Homo sapiens: one gene and its partner. The protein of the gene in region 1 interacts with the protein of each later gene in a pairwise test. Each region holds a gene or a part of one and is shown in the gene's direction. Other genes may lie near its edges.

The links. The genes of interacting proteins can lie anywhere in the genome.
Region 2: the proteins of CSGALNACT2 (region 1) and SYT1 interact in binary tests that used the Homo sapiens proteins (3 or more experiments, as listed by UniProt).

Annotation. Positions count from the first base shown.
Region 1 is NC_000010.11:43,148,429-43,155,456, forward strand, and holds part of CSGALNACT2 (chondroitin sulfate N-acetylgalactosaminyltransferase 2), read left to right. Parts: intron 1-1,358; exon of another isoform or gene 1,359-1,715; intron 1,716-6,468; 5' UTR 6,469-6,721; coding exon 6,722-7,028. UniProt on the Homo sapiens protein: Transfers 1,4-N-acetylgalactosamine (GalNAc) from UDP-GalNAc to the non-reducing end of glucuronic acid (GlcUA). Required for addition of the first GalNAc to the core tetrasaccharide linker and for elongation of chondroitin chains.
Region 2 is NC_000012.12:79,280,746-79,287,773, forward strand, and holds part of SYT1 (synaptotagmin-1), read left to right. Parts: intron 1-5,041; coding exon 5,042-5,226; intron 5,227-7,028. UniProt on the Homo sapiens protein: Calcium sensor that participates in triggering neurotransmitter release at the synapse. May have a regulatory role in the membrane interactions during trafficking of synaptic vesicles at the active zone of the synapse.

The DNA of each region.
Region 1 (7,028 bases):
TCCACTGGGATTCTTGAAGAGGATTGTGTTTAATCTGTACATTAATTGGGGAATATTACCATTTTAGCAATATTAAGCCTTCCAATCATGAGTGTGGTGTCTTTCTGTTTATTTAAATCTTAACTTTCTTCCAACAATGTTTTGTAGTTTCTATGAATACAAGTCTTGCAGTTCTTTTGTTAACATTATTCCTATTTTATTCTTTTTGATGCCATATTGTATACAGGATTGTTTTTTTAATTTCATTTTCAGATTGCTTGTTGCTAATGTAGAGAAATACAATTGATTTTTGTATATCGATATTGTATCCTACAACTGGCTGAACTCATTTATTAGTTATAATAGATTTTTAGTGAATTCCTTAGGATTTTCTGCATACAGATCATATCATCTGCAAATAAGGATAGTTTTACTTCTTCCTTTTCAATCTGGATGCCTTTTATTTCATTTTCTTGCCTAATTGCCTTGGCTACAACCTCCTCTAGTACAATATAAATAGAAGTGACAAGAACAGACATCCTTGTCTTATTCCTGATCTTGGGGGAAGGCATACAGTCTTTCATCATTAAATACAATGTTAGCTATGGGTTTTTTGTAGGTCCCTTTTCTTAGATTAGGAAGGTGTCTTCTAGTTTATTGAATGGTGTTTGGTTTGGTTTGGTTTGGTTTTTTGAGATGGAGTCTCGCTTTGTCGCCCAGGCTGCAGTGCAGTGGCGTGATCTCGGCTCACTGCAACCTCCGCCTCCCAGGTCCATGTGATTCTCCTAACTCAGCCTCCTGAGTAGCTGGGACTGCAGGTGCATGCCACCACCACACCCGGCTAATTTTTTGTATTTTTAGTAGAGGCGGGGTTTCATTGTGCTAGCCAGGATGGTCTCTATCTCCTGACCTCGTGGGATCTGCCCACCTCGGCCTTCCAAAGTGCTGGAATTACAGGTGTGAGCCACCGCACCCAGCCCCTATTGAATGGTTTTTATTAGGAAATGGTGTTGGATTTTGTCAAATGCTTTTTCCATGTCTGTTGAGATGATCAAGTGAATTTTGTCTTCTATTGATATGGTATATTGCATTAATTGATTTTCAGATGTTAAACCAACCTTGCAGTCCTGGGATAAATCTTATTTGGCCATGATGTATGATTCCTCTTATATATTGCTGGGTTCGTTTTGCTAGTATTTTGTTGAGGATTTTTGTATTTATATTCATATAGGATATTGGCCTATGGTTTTCTTTTAATGTCTGGATTTGGTAGCAGGATGATACTGACCTTATAGAATGCTTCCTCTTCTATTTTTTGGAAGAGTCTGTGAAGATAATTCTTATTTAATAATAATAATTCTTATTTAAATGTTTGCTAGGCTGGGTGTGGTGGCTCACGCCTGTGATCCCAGCACTTTTCGAGGCTGAGGCGGGTGGATCACCTGAGGTCGAGAGTTCAAGACCAGCCTGACCAACATGGAGAAACCCCATCTCTACTAAAAATACAGAATTAGCCAGGCGTGGTGGTGCATGCCTGTAATCCTAGCTACTCGGCAGGCTGAGGCAGGAGAATCCCTTGAACGTGGGAGGCGGAGGTTGCGGTGAGCTGAGATCGCGCCATTGCACTCCAGCCTGGGCAACAAGAGCGAAACTCTGTCTCAAAAAAAATAATAGTAATAATAAATAAATGTTTGGTACATTCCACCAGTGAAGCCTCTTGGCCTGGACTTTTCATTGTGAGTAGTTTTTTTATTATTATTAATTCAATCTTTTGTCATATAAGTCTATTCATATCTGGTATTTCTTCTTAAATCAGTTTTGTTAGTTTCTATCTTTCTAGGATTTTGTCCATTTTATTCAGTTATCTTTTGAAGAGATTTAGATAATAATGAGCAAAAATCTTAGTTACCAATGTCGTTAACATTAATGATGTTTTTCATTGCTTTGTATAAATCCATATTCCTTTCTGGTATTATGTTCCTCTGCCTAAAAGACTTACAGTACAGGTATGATGGTGATGAATTCCTTTAGCTTTTTATGTAGAGAAAGTATTTTGCCTTTTTCAAAGATAATTTCTCTGGGTATAGAATTGTAGGCTGGCATATTTTTCTTTTTAGTTCTTTAAAGATCATTGTTCCACTGTCTAATTACTTTCAGTTTTCAAAGAGTAATCTGTCATTATTATCTTTTGTTCCTTGTATGTGATGTGCATTTTTCATGTGGCCAGTTTAAAGATTTTCTCTTTACATTGGATTTGAGCAATTTGATTATCATGTACCTTGCTATAATTTTCTTTATGGCTATTTGGGATTGGTTGAGCTTCTTATGTGTGTTTATAGTTTCCATCAAATTTGGGAAATTTTCAGCCTTATTTGTTTAAGTATTTCTCCTGACTCCTTCCCCCTTCTTTGGGGACTCCAGTTACATGTATATTAGGCTGTTTGAAGTTGTCACAGAGCTTATCAATGCTTTGTTTATATTTTTGATTCTTTTTTCTTTCTGTATGTTGCATAGTTTCTTTTGCTACATCTCTAGTTTACTAATATTTTCTTCTAAAATATCTAATCTGCCATTAATCCCATTCAGTGTATTTTTCATCTCAGACACTGAAATTTTCATCTCCTGAAGTTTAACTTGGATCTCTTTTATGTCATTCATACCTCTACTTAAATTTTTGAACATAAACATCATTTTAAAAATACAGTTATGATAGCTGTTTTGGTGTCCTTTTTCTGCAGATTCCCACATCTGTCAGTTCTAATCATTGGTCAGTTTTAATTGTTGATTTTTTTCATTATGGATCATATTTTTTTATACCTGGTAATTTTTGTTGAGATGCCAGATATTGTGAATTTTATTTTGTTGAGTACTGGATATTTCTGTATTCTTATAAATATTCTTAAGGCTTGTTGTGCTATTACTTGGAAATAATGTGATCCTTTCAAGTCTTGCTTTTAAGATGTATTGGCAGGATTAGTGCCATGTTTAGTCTAGAGCTAATTATTTCCCACTACTGAGACAAGATTTTTTTGAGTGCTCTACCGAGTGCCCTGGGAATTCTGAGGTTTTCCAGTCTGTCTGTTGGGAACATGCACTAATCCTGGCCCTGTATGAATGCTGGGTTCTGTGTCCTCTAATTTTGTGTGTGGTCCTTTCCTTAGCCCGTTAGTTGCCTCATAAGCCTTTACTTATCAGTGCTCTGCCAAATACCCATGGGATATCCTATTCAGATTTCTGGAGTTCTCTCTGTGTGCAGCTGTATCCACTCTGGTACTATATGCTTTAATCCTAGATACCTTGGTCTCTTCAGACTATGAGCTGCATCCCATGAACTCAGGGAATCTGCTGGGCTCTGCTTAGGTTCCCCTCCTTGTGTGGCTCAGAAACTAAGGCAGTAAGCTGGCAACCACTTGTTTCTTGTTTCTCTGGGGATCACTGTCCTTTGTTACCTGATGTTAAATATCTTGAAAATCATTGTTTCATATTTTGGGTTTGTTGGCAGGAAAAGTTGTTTGTTTGTTTTTGGTTGTTTCAAGACAACCAAAGAGAGCAAATCTGAGAGTAAATCTGGCCCGTTACTTCATCTTGGTCGTAAAAGGAAGTCAGTTTTTTAAGCAGTTTTAGAGAGTTAGAATTGATGGCTTGTAAGGTTTCTTTCAATCCTGAGATCTTTGGCTTCATATTACATACCTTTAACAGCTTATTTTCCCATCTTCACATTATCCTTTTCTCTCCTCAAAACACTTAACTATCTGCATTTGTGCTTAGAAGGCTTGTTGGGATTAACTCTGGGCTGTGAATGAACCGTATTCATGATACAAACACATTTCATAGAATGATGACAATCAAGATGTAACAACAGAAAAATGTTTTCTATAATATTCTTAATATATTTATATGATAGAACAGCTATAATGTAATCTTCTAGATTATGGCCAAAGAGTTTCTTTCGGGAACTAGGCAAATAAGATTTTAATTGAAATCTTTCATTTTTAATAACCACAGAATTATGCAACTTTTACATTCTGAAGTAATTACAGTATCCTTTCATTTTATTGGAAAATATTCAACTGTAATATTAAGTAGGATATCTCAAAACCTGTATTTCCCTTAAAGGGAAGAGGAAGAAAAATGACCTTAGCTTTTTAACACTGCCACTGATAATTTCCATTCTATTTTATTGAAAAGTAAACCTTCAGTAGTGACCTATTGTCTGAGTTATAGCTCATAGTCTAAAATACATTGTGTATATAAAGAAAACATATGAGGTACCATATTAATAAAAGATAGTGGTAGTTCTGTTACCCAGTTTCACTTCAGTTTTGAGTATAACATGCTTAAGTATGTATATCTTTATTAATTAAAGTATGTATATCTTTATTATACAAGATTATGTCTCCACATTTTCAGTTCTTTTTCCTAATAAATGGGCTAGTAATAGTTAAAACAGATACCGCTAGGTTTATCTTTTAAATAATGAAATTCAAGTGTTTTCTTATGCTAGGGATTATGGTTTTGAGGTATGGTTAAGTCCTGGAAATAATACTAGTTATTTTTTGATTAGATGGTATTTCTTAAAGCCAACTATTTTTTTTCTGTTTTTTTCTACATCACTCAAACAAGATTTATAATCAGTAAGAGAGATGCTGTAATAGTAAAAGACTCCCTTGGCCAGGCGCGGTGGCTAATCCCAGCACTTTGGGAGGCCGAGGCGGGCGGATCACGAGGTCAGGAGATGAGACCACGATGAAACCCCGTCTCTACTAAAAATACAAAAATTAGCCGGGCGTGGTGGCCGGCGCTTGTAGTCCCAGCTACTCGGGAGGCTGAGGCAGGAGAATAGCGCGAACCCAGGAGGCGGAGCTTGCAGCGAGCCAAGATCGCGCCACTGCACTGCAGCCTGGGCGACAGAGCAAGACTCTGTCTCAAAAAAAAAAGGACTCCCTTGTAGTGAGTTAAATTTTTCAAGATACTTGGTTATCATTTCGTTTACTAAAATAATAAATGACTAAGGAGAGTTAAGACCATTATTTGTGGTATATTGGCCATAAGAAGTTTTCTTCTGTCCTATGTTTTATACAGACATGTTACCAAAAAAAAAAAAATACGCATTGCAGCATTTGCCACAGAAAGCATCCAGGTTTTTCTACTCATTAAAAAAGTGGCTAGGACTGATAACCTGTAGTGATCTTCCAGGTTTTGCTGCAGTGAGAAAACCATTACTGTTAAAAACCTGCTGTCATATCACATTATCCTTCTCAACAAGCACTTTGTTACAATGGAAGTTCTCTTTGCAGTGGAGTCCTCCTTGCCTCCCTTGTCCTAAGTTAAACCTCTATTTTTAGAGTTAAGAATCATTAAAGACATGGAAGAGTTCGCACAACTGGTTGTGGCATGAACGATAGCATGTAATTTTATAAATGTATAAATGGTTTTTGAATTTTTTTCTCTGCTGATAAGGATGATTAAATTCTTCATGTTTTTTCTTTATATAGACTCCAAACCTTTCTAGACTTGTAGGAAATCTGTTGATGCATAATACAGTGGAAAGAATTATGTGATCTAATGTGCAAATAATCTACTGGAGGACATTGGATATAAAAATGTTTTCTTAATGTGTTTTTCAGATGTCTGTGAGCTTTTGAAGTTGTTCTTTCCCCCACTTAATTTTAAGTCTCCTAGATTGGCTGAGCTGAGCAGTAGAAATTAATGAGGTAGAATGCTTGAGTTGAATAAACTGGGAGAAAATCTCTCTCTCCAGTAAACCGTTATTACTGTAACAGAAACAGTTTCTATAAACTCAGTTCCCAAATGGTCATAAGCTTTAGTTGGGAAATGGTGCGGTAATTGAAATACTATGTTAATAAAGAGTTATAGGCAATATAATTTTCAAATAATTAGAGAACAGTAGAATATATGTAATACAGACTATGCTGACGTAATTTTAATGTTTCTTTGATTCAAGTTATAGCTGTGTAGACATAATAGTTAAAAGTATTATACATAGTTTATTGTTTTTTAAGGTATTTTAAAAAATTCTCCCAGGCCAGGCTCAGTGGCTCACACCTGTAATCCCAGCACTTTGGGAGGCCAAGACAGGCAGATCACCTGAGGTCAGGACCAGCCTGGCTAACATGGTGAAACCTTGTCTCTACTAAAAATACAAAAATTAGCTGGGAGTGGTAGGCAGATGCCTGTAGTCCCAGCTACTCAGGAAGCTGAGATGGAAGGATCACTTGAACCCAGGAGGCAGAGGTTGCAGTAAGCCAAGATTGTGCCACTGCATTCCAGCCTGGGTGACGGAGTGAGACTCCATCTCAAAAAAAAAAAAAAATTCTCCTAGTATTTACTGAATATTCTAAATTATATTAGTACCTCTCATAGTTCTCTGCATGTAGTAGTCACGTAGCTAAGTTTACTGAAGCCACAAACAAATTTGATATCCTTAAGGGAACAAAATTCTGATTGATTCTGATCTGTGTCTTTCAGAAAAATCACTACCAATATAATGGATTTTATATATCAGATTGCTTTATTCTGGATATCATGGTAACAATACAGAAAGTATACATAATTTCCCATTTCTGCAAGTAGTCATGACTGCTGAAGAAAGAAAAACTTAAAGCTACGGCAGAATTATTTTATGGAAATTCTGATTTTGTTTTTAATTTTTGATAACTTTTTACTAAAGGTATGAACACACAAAGAGCTTATTTTGTTAGGCAAATACACATTAATAAGAATGCCTAGAAGAGGACTGATTCTTCACACCCGGACCCACTGGTTGCTGTTGGGCCTTGCTTTGCTCTGCAGTTTGGTATTATTTATGTACCTCCTGGAATGTGCCCCCCAGACTGATGGAAATGCATCTCTTCCTGGTGTTGTTGGGGAAAATTATGGTAAAGAGTATTATCAAGCCCTCCTACAGGAACAAGAAGAACATTATCAGACCAGGGCAACCAGTCTGAAACGCCAAATTGCCCAACTAAAACAAGAATTACAAGAAATGAGTGAGAAGATGCGGTCACTGCAAGAAAGAAGGAATGTAG
Region 2 (7,028 bases), on another chromosome or scaffold:
ACTATACATCCAACAAACGGCTAATATCCAAGATCCACAGGGACCTCAAATCAGCAAGAAAAAAAGATAATAATCCCATAAAAAGTGGGAATATGTGAAGAGAGATTTTTCAAAAGAAGCCATACAAGTGGCCAACAAACATATGAAAAAAATGCTCCACATCACTAATCATCAGAGAAATAAAAATTAAAACCAAAATGAGATACCACCTTACAGTCAGAATGGCCATTAATAAAAAGTAAAAAAAAAAAAAATAGATACTGGCATGGATGCTGTGAAAATGGAACTCTTACTCACTGTTGATGTATTAGGTAAATTAGTACAACTTCTATGCAGAACAGTATGGAGAGTTCTCAAAGAACTAAAAACAGTTCTACCATTTGATCCAGCAATCCCACTAATGGATATCTACCCAAAGAAAAAGAAGCCATTATATCAAAAAGACACCTGCACTTATATGTTTATTGCAGCACAATTCACAAACGCAGAGGTATGGAATCAACCTAAGTGCTCATCAATGGATGAGTGGATAAAGAAAATGTCAGATACGGATATAGAGATATAGATAGATATAGATAGATAGATCATGGAATACTACTCAGTTATAATAAAAGAACAAAATAATGTCTTTTTGCAGCAACTTGGTTAGAATTGGAGGCTATTATCCTAAGTGAAGTAACTCAGAAACAGAAAACCAAAAACTGCATATTCTCACTTATAAGTGAAAGCTAAGCTATGGGTATGCATGGGCATATAGAATGGTATAATGAACACTGGAGACTCAAAAGTGGGAAGGGGATGAGAGATTAAATATTACCTATTGGATACAATGTACACCATTCAGGTGATGGGTACACTAAAAGCCCAGACGTTACTACTATACAATTCATCCATTTAACCAAACCCCTAGAGCTACTAAAATAAATAAATAAATGAAAAGACAGCAGAAAATACATGACTAGCCCACATGAATATTACTAATGTATAGTTACCTATATACAGCATATATTACAAATCTCTTGAGGTCTTCTTTGTATCACTTGAGTTCCTATTGTTGCTATAATGAATTATTCCAAGTTTACTGTCATAAAAGCCACACACATTTATTATTTTCCCATTCTGGAGGTCAGAAATCTGAAATTGGTTTCACTGAGCTGAAATCAAGGCGTCAGCAGGGCCAATTCTCTCTTGAAGGTGTAGGGGAGAATCCATTTCCCTGCCTTTTCCAGCTTCAAGAGGCACCTGCATTCCTTGGCTCATGGTCCCTTTCTTTATCTACAAAACCAGCAACAGAGACTCTTCAAATCTCCCTCTCTCTCTTGGACTCTGACATTTCTGCCTGCCTCTTTCACTTATAAAAACTCTGGTAATTGCATTGAGTCTACACTCAGATAATTCAGGATAATTTCCCCATCTCAAGATCCTTAATCTAATCACACTTGCAAAGTCCCTCTTACCAGGCAGGGTAAGGTATTCACAGCTTCCAGAAAATAGGATGTGGTCATCTTGGAGGGGCCATTATCATGTCTACCACAAGGTATTAATTAAAACATCAGAAGCAGTTTTAAATTAATTTGCCTTGTACTTAATTATTATGTATCAATTTACCTTTGGGTCAGATAATATATGTGAGATTGATTCATTAACTAGAAAATGAAAATAAAATTTTTAATAGAGTTTTTATACTAGTCAATTATTTTCTGCTGAAAGGCCTTTAAGTTGAATGTTAAAATTGTTATTATAAACTTCCATGTAATGGTAGTTGGGTAGCAATAACAATAAACTGATAGTTTTCTGCCTGTAGCAGTATTTTGATGAGACTATTTTTGACTGAAACTCTTATTTTGTATTTAAAAAATCACTGCATTTTATGCTGTTATTTGCTTCACTGAATTATTTAATTTAATATGTTCTATTAAAGAGACTTTAAAGCTAGATACAAATTTTTTCTCCGTATACATTTTTAATATTCACATTTTTAACCTAACGACCTAAAGATAAATTTGAATTTCTCAAACTATTCAACCTATAGTTTTTCCTCTGTAAAACTGCAGTGATACTGAACAAAACTGCTGCAAAGAATAAATAAGATAATGTATCTATAACTGTAGCCAAATTGCTGGGCCATAACAGGTAGGTAGGTCTTCAATAAACTTTTAGCCTGATCCAAAATATATTCCACAAGATTTGCTGACCAATATTGAAACATGTTTCTACAAATACTGCAGATGAATAATACTGTGGGTGTTGTTTCTTAGTAAACTTGCCAAATTTTAAATATTTGGTTACTCTACACAATTAAATAAAATTTTAACATGAGCATCCAAGTAACTCTATTTACTAAAAATGGCTGTTTCTTTACATGATATATGACTAATGAGTGAAGCTATCCTATAGCTATACAAAATGATAACGTTAAGCATTTTTTATTTTGTCTATCTAAAGGTGCCAATACATTGTGAAGAAAATTCTGTTAATTTCATTATATTTAATACAGCATATTCCAACTTAAAGTTATTCAGAAGATCAACTGAAGGCAAATCTAAAAGACAGCAGTGCTTTAAGAAATAAAAGTCATAAAACAAAAGTTTTTCAGTGGTTATAAATTACTTTCAAGTTGCATTATTTCAAATTTCTTCCTGTAATCTCATGTTCCTAGCTCTTTAACTCCCTTTGATTAAATGATGTTCCTTTGCTTTCACTATTTTCTTTTTGTGAACTTGTCAAATCATCTTTGTCTTGTCTTGTACAATTTAAGAGACTTTTATGTAGCTCTCTGAGCGACTATCACCACACAAGTCCAACTGGGAGAATAATTTATGAGGTTCAAAATGAAGGGTCATTATGAATGCTGTCTTTCCCGCAATGAATACATACACTCTCTTGTTCATGCATGACAGGATTTTAACTAAATCAATGGAGATAGATGCTTTTAAATGAAGTATTATGAATGATATCATTGGTTACATAAAATAATTTACTTTTTATGTAATCTTTACCTTGTTTAATAAATTTAGAGAACTGGAAGAAAACTTCTTTAGGTGTGGGTTTATCTGTAACTGTCACATAAGTATTTCTTTGGTAGAAAACACAATTTCAAAAGTTGTAGTTTTATGTCCTTAGGTTAACATCTAGTATCCAGTCATAAGCCAGAATATTATGCATAGTAAGTATTCTGCACAATGATACTAAATGCAGAGGAAAAGCAAAGAGAGTAGATTTTCTCAATTTTGAAGAGAGGTTAATTTTTAAGTGTTTTTACTTTATCAAAGTATTCCTGACTGGTGTTCAGCAATCATTGGTTCTAGTAATGTTTATTTGGCTTTTTCTTATCATTTCAGTGCCCAGTATCTTTTTTTTTTATTACAACAGACAAATCTAATTACTTCTGATTAATCTCAATAGCTGTGATTTGGATTATGAATACTTCCCTTCCAATCTAACTGAAATCATAAATGTTTCCATGTCACCTTATTTTTTATAAGCACATGGTGTAAGGCATACCAAATAAGAAAATATATTAACTTTTATCAGAGAGACAACTGTAATAGAAAACTCAATGTTTATTTTAGTATATTTATGTATATATGTTCTATTATTTTAAACAGCCTGTAAACCTAAGCCTCTCCTCTTATCTAAAAATCATCCGTCCTCCTCTCATTGCCTTTGCATTTTCACTAAACTCCCCTCTGTGTATTTATCTTGCTTTTTAGGTATTTACTTGTGTGAGTAGTTTATGTTTTTTCATATGTCCTGAGCTCTCTGCCTTACCCACCATGCCTTGACTATAAAGAAATGATAGCTAACTTTGGCCAGGTGTGGTGGTTCACGCCTGTAATCCCAGCACTTTGCAAGGCCGAGGCAGGTGGATCATAAGGTCAGGAGATCGAGACCATCCTGGCCAACATGGTGAAACCCCGTATCTACTAAAAAAAATATAAAAATTAGCTGGGCATGGTGGCGTGTGCCTGAAGTCCCAGCTACTCGGGACGCTGAGGCAGGGGAATTGCTTGAACCCAGGAGGCAGAGTTTGCAGTGAGCCGAGATCGTGCCACTACACTCCAGCCTGGCAAGAGAGCGAGACTCCATCTCAAAAAAAAAAAAAAAAGAATTGATAGCTAACATTAATTGAGCTCTTGCTATGTTCCAGATGCATTAAAAGCTTTTTAACATATTAATCCCTTTCATCTTTAAGCCAGATGAAATGGGTACCACTGTAATCTTCACTGTATAGAGGAGGAAACAGAAACTCAGAACAGTGAAGCAATCTGAGTAGAGTCACACAGCCTCTAAGTGGCCGAAGCCAAAATCTAAACCTGGGTTAAGAGCCACCGAACACATGAGCATCACCCACATCTGGAGAACTTCAGTGCATACATTTTCCCCATGCTTGATTTTCAAATCACCAAGTACTTTTAATTAACCTTCACTATTGTTATGATTTGACATTTGTTGTTCTATATATACAACTAATATCTGCCCCATACCATGCCAGAACATAAGAATACAACACCTAGTATTTTATAGATGAGTAATAGCAGCTGCCATTTATTAAGCTTTTGCCATGTGCCAGGCACTGCATCTTATTATTTAATACTCAGAAAGATCTATGGGGTACCTACCAATTTATTTCCACTTTAGAGATGAGGAAAGTGAGGCAGAGAGAGGTTAGATGACTTGCCCAAGATCACACAGCTAGTAAATGGTGAAGCCAGGATTTAAACTCAATGGCTGAACTCCAAAGCTTGGCTCTGAATGAGTGAAGAGATGTGTTCCTAGAAATCTAGCTTGGAGAGTCAAGAAAAGTAATAGGGAGGAGATGACATTTGACATATCTGGAAGGGCAAAGTGGGAAAGAAAGGAAACAATACACTCAAGGGAGACAACAACATGGATAAAGTACTGAGGAATGGTGTACCTGCAGCATAACAGGTGCTCAAAAATGCAAATGAAAAAAATGAATATCTTTATAGCCCATGAGTTAAAAGGTTTTCCACATCTAAGTGTTGTATGACTAGTGCTCTCTGTGTGTTTCTTTCAGTGCCACCGTGGGCCTTAATTGCAATAGCCATAGTCGCAGTCCTTTTAGTCCTGACCTGCTGCTTTTGTATCTGTAAGAAATGTTTGTTCAAAAAGAAAAACAAGAAGAAGGGAAAGGAAAAAGGAGGGAAGAATGCCATTAACATGAAAGATGTAAAAGACTTAGGGAAGACGATGAAAGATCAGGTAATGTATTCTTTCTACATTTCTTCTTATTTTGTTTAAAAAAGATAAACAAATGTATTATTTTATGCCATATAATTACAGAAATAAACAACTTCTGGACCCATATCGTTTTTGAGATGCTTTGCAAACCTTTCAGTCATTGTTCAAGATCCCAAAGCATAATGGAAGCATTTGGCAGGGTTTTCCAATCTCCTGAGCATATAGAACAGAAAAGGGCATCCATGATCATCAGGCCCATCTTGATGGGTTTGGCATATGAGAATGATGCCTGAATATTTTGATTACATCTGTTTAACCAGTCTTCATTGCGTTTAGAGTTAGAAAAATCAGATAAAAAGTGCCTGAGTGTTTTGCATTTGGGCAGGGGATCTTTCTAATTTCTACTGTTCATAGTCACTGTTAAATAACTGAGTTTTACGGCTGTTCATCAAACTGGATGAAAGCTGCTTTTCCTACATGTCCATCCAGCTGAAAAATTAATTCTCAAGAATAATGAGTTACATGGGAGAAGGGAGAGAAATATGAGCCAGTTCTAAAGAACACGACAGGATAGAATTTTTGCCTTATGAAAAAGTTTTCTTTCTTATTTCTTATAAGACAAAATTCTCATTTCAATTTAATAAGGACAATTACAACCATAACACTGGTTATAAAATCCATCTGGCTGGGTTATCTTTCCAAGCCCAAAAAAGCTATTTGGATGTTCTTTATGTTGCTATCTGTTTTTGGCTAAATTAATTGGACAACTTGGTTCAAGATAATGTTTACTATTATTAATGATAATTATTAAATGCCTCTTCATTTTTGAAATAATATCCATGTTGAATATCTCTAAAGAATATTTAATTCATATTTTAAAATTAAAATGTAAATGTACAGATTTTTTATAGAATTAACATTTTCAATTATCAATGTTTTCATCAAATACAAAAGTTTTATTTATTCCCAAATAGCAAAATATATAAGCAGTTTTATAAATTCCTCTTATACTATTAATTACTATTAATCAAACTCTTAAACCTGAATCTCCTTAAGAACAATTTAATCAGGTGTTACAACAGGCATTTTAAGTACATTTGCGTTGTTTCCTAGTTCATTACACATTCAGGGACATTAACTCCCCTTCCCAGCTTCAGTTTTAAACTCTTTTTCCTCAAAGACACTATAGTATCTATTGATAATAATTTCACAAAGGCTCATGTTTTACTCCCTGCATTTTTGTTCTGTTTTGGAGCTATGGAATGGATGAAATGCCTGTACTCATACTCAGAGAGTTTTGGCCTGAGCTCGGAGTAGCAAGGGTTTGATTTTTCTGGCAATTTCTAATCACAGTCACAAAAGCCAATGCATAAACGTTCAACTACAGGTGTCTAATAAAGATTTTTCTCTTCAGTTAATTTAAGTAGAAACTAAAATTTCCAGGCATGTCTTACTTTATTTCCACACTTTTCATAGCAAGCAGGACTTGATAAAGATTTCTTTAAACAACTTATTGGGAGATTAAGTGTGGAAATAACCTCCTAGATGGACATGGACTGAATAATATGTATGTTAATTTTATCAATATTGTGAAAACAATAATTTGACAATAGATCACTATCTTTTTCATAATTATCATAAAATTTGAATGTGGTTTCCCTGTGTTCTAGAACTAATTAAAATTACTGAATAATGTTAAGTGATAACGATAGCATTTCTTCCTAGGACAATAAATCTATAATATTTGTGGGATTTGTTCTGTATGATGTAAAATTATAATTTACAGCATAGTGGTGGTGTTTATTACCCCTGTTATGACCTGG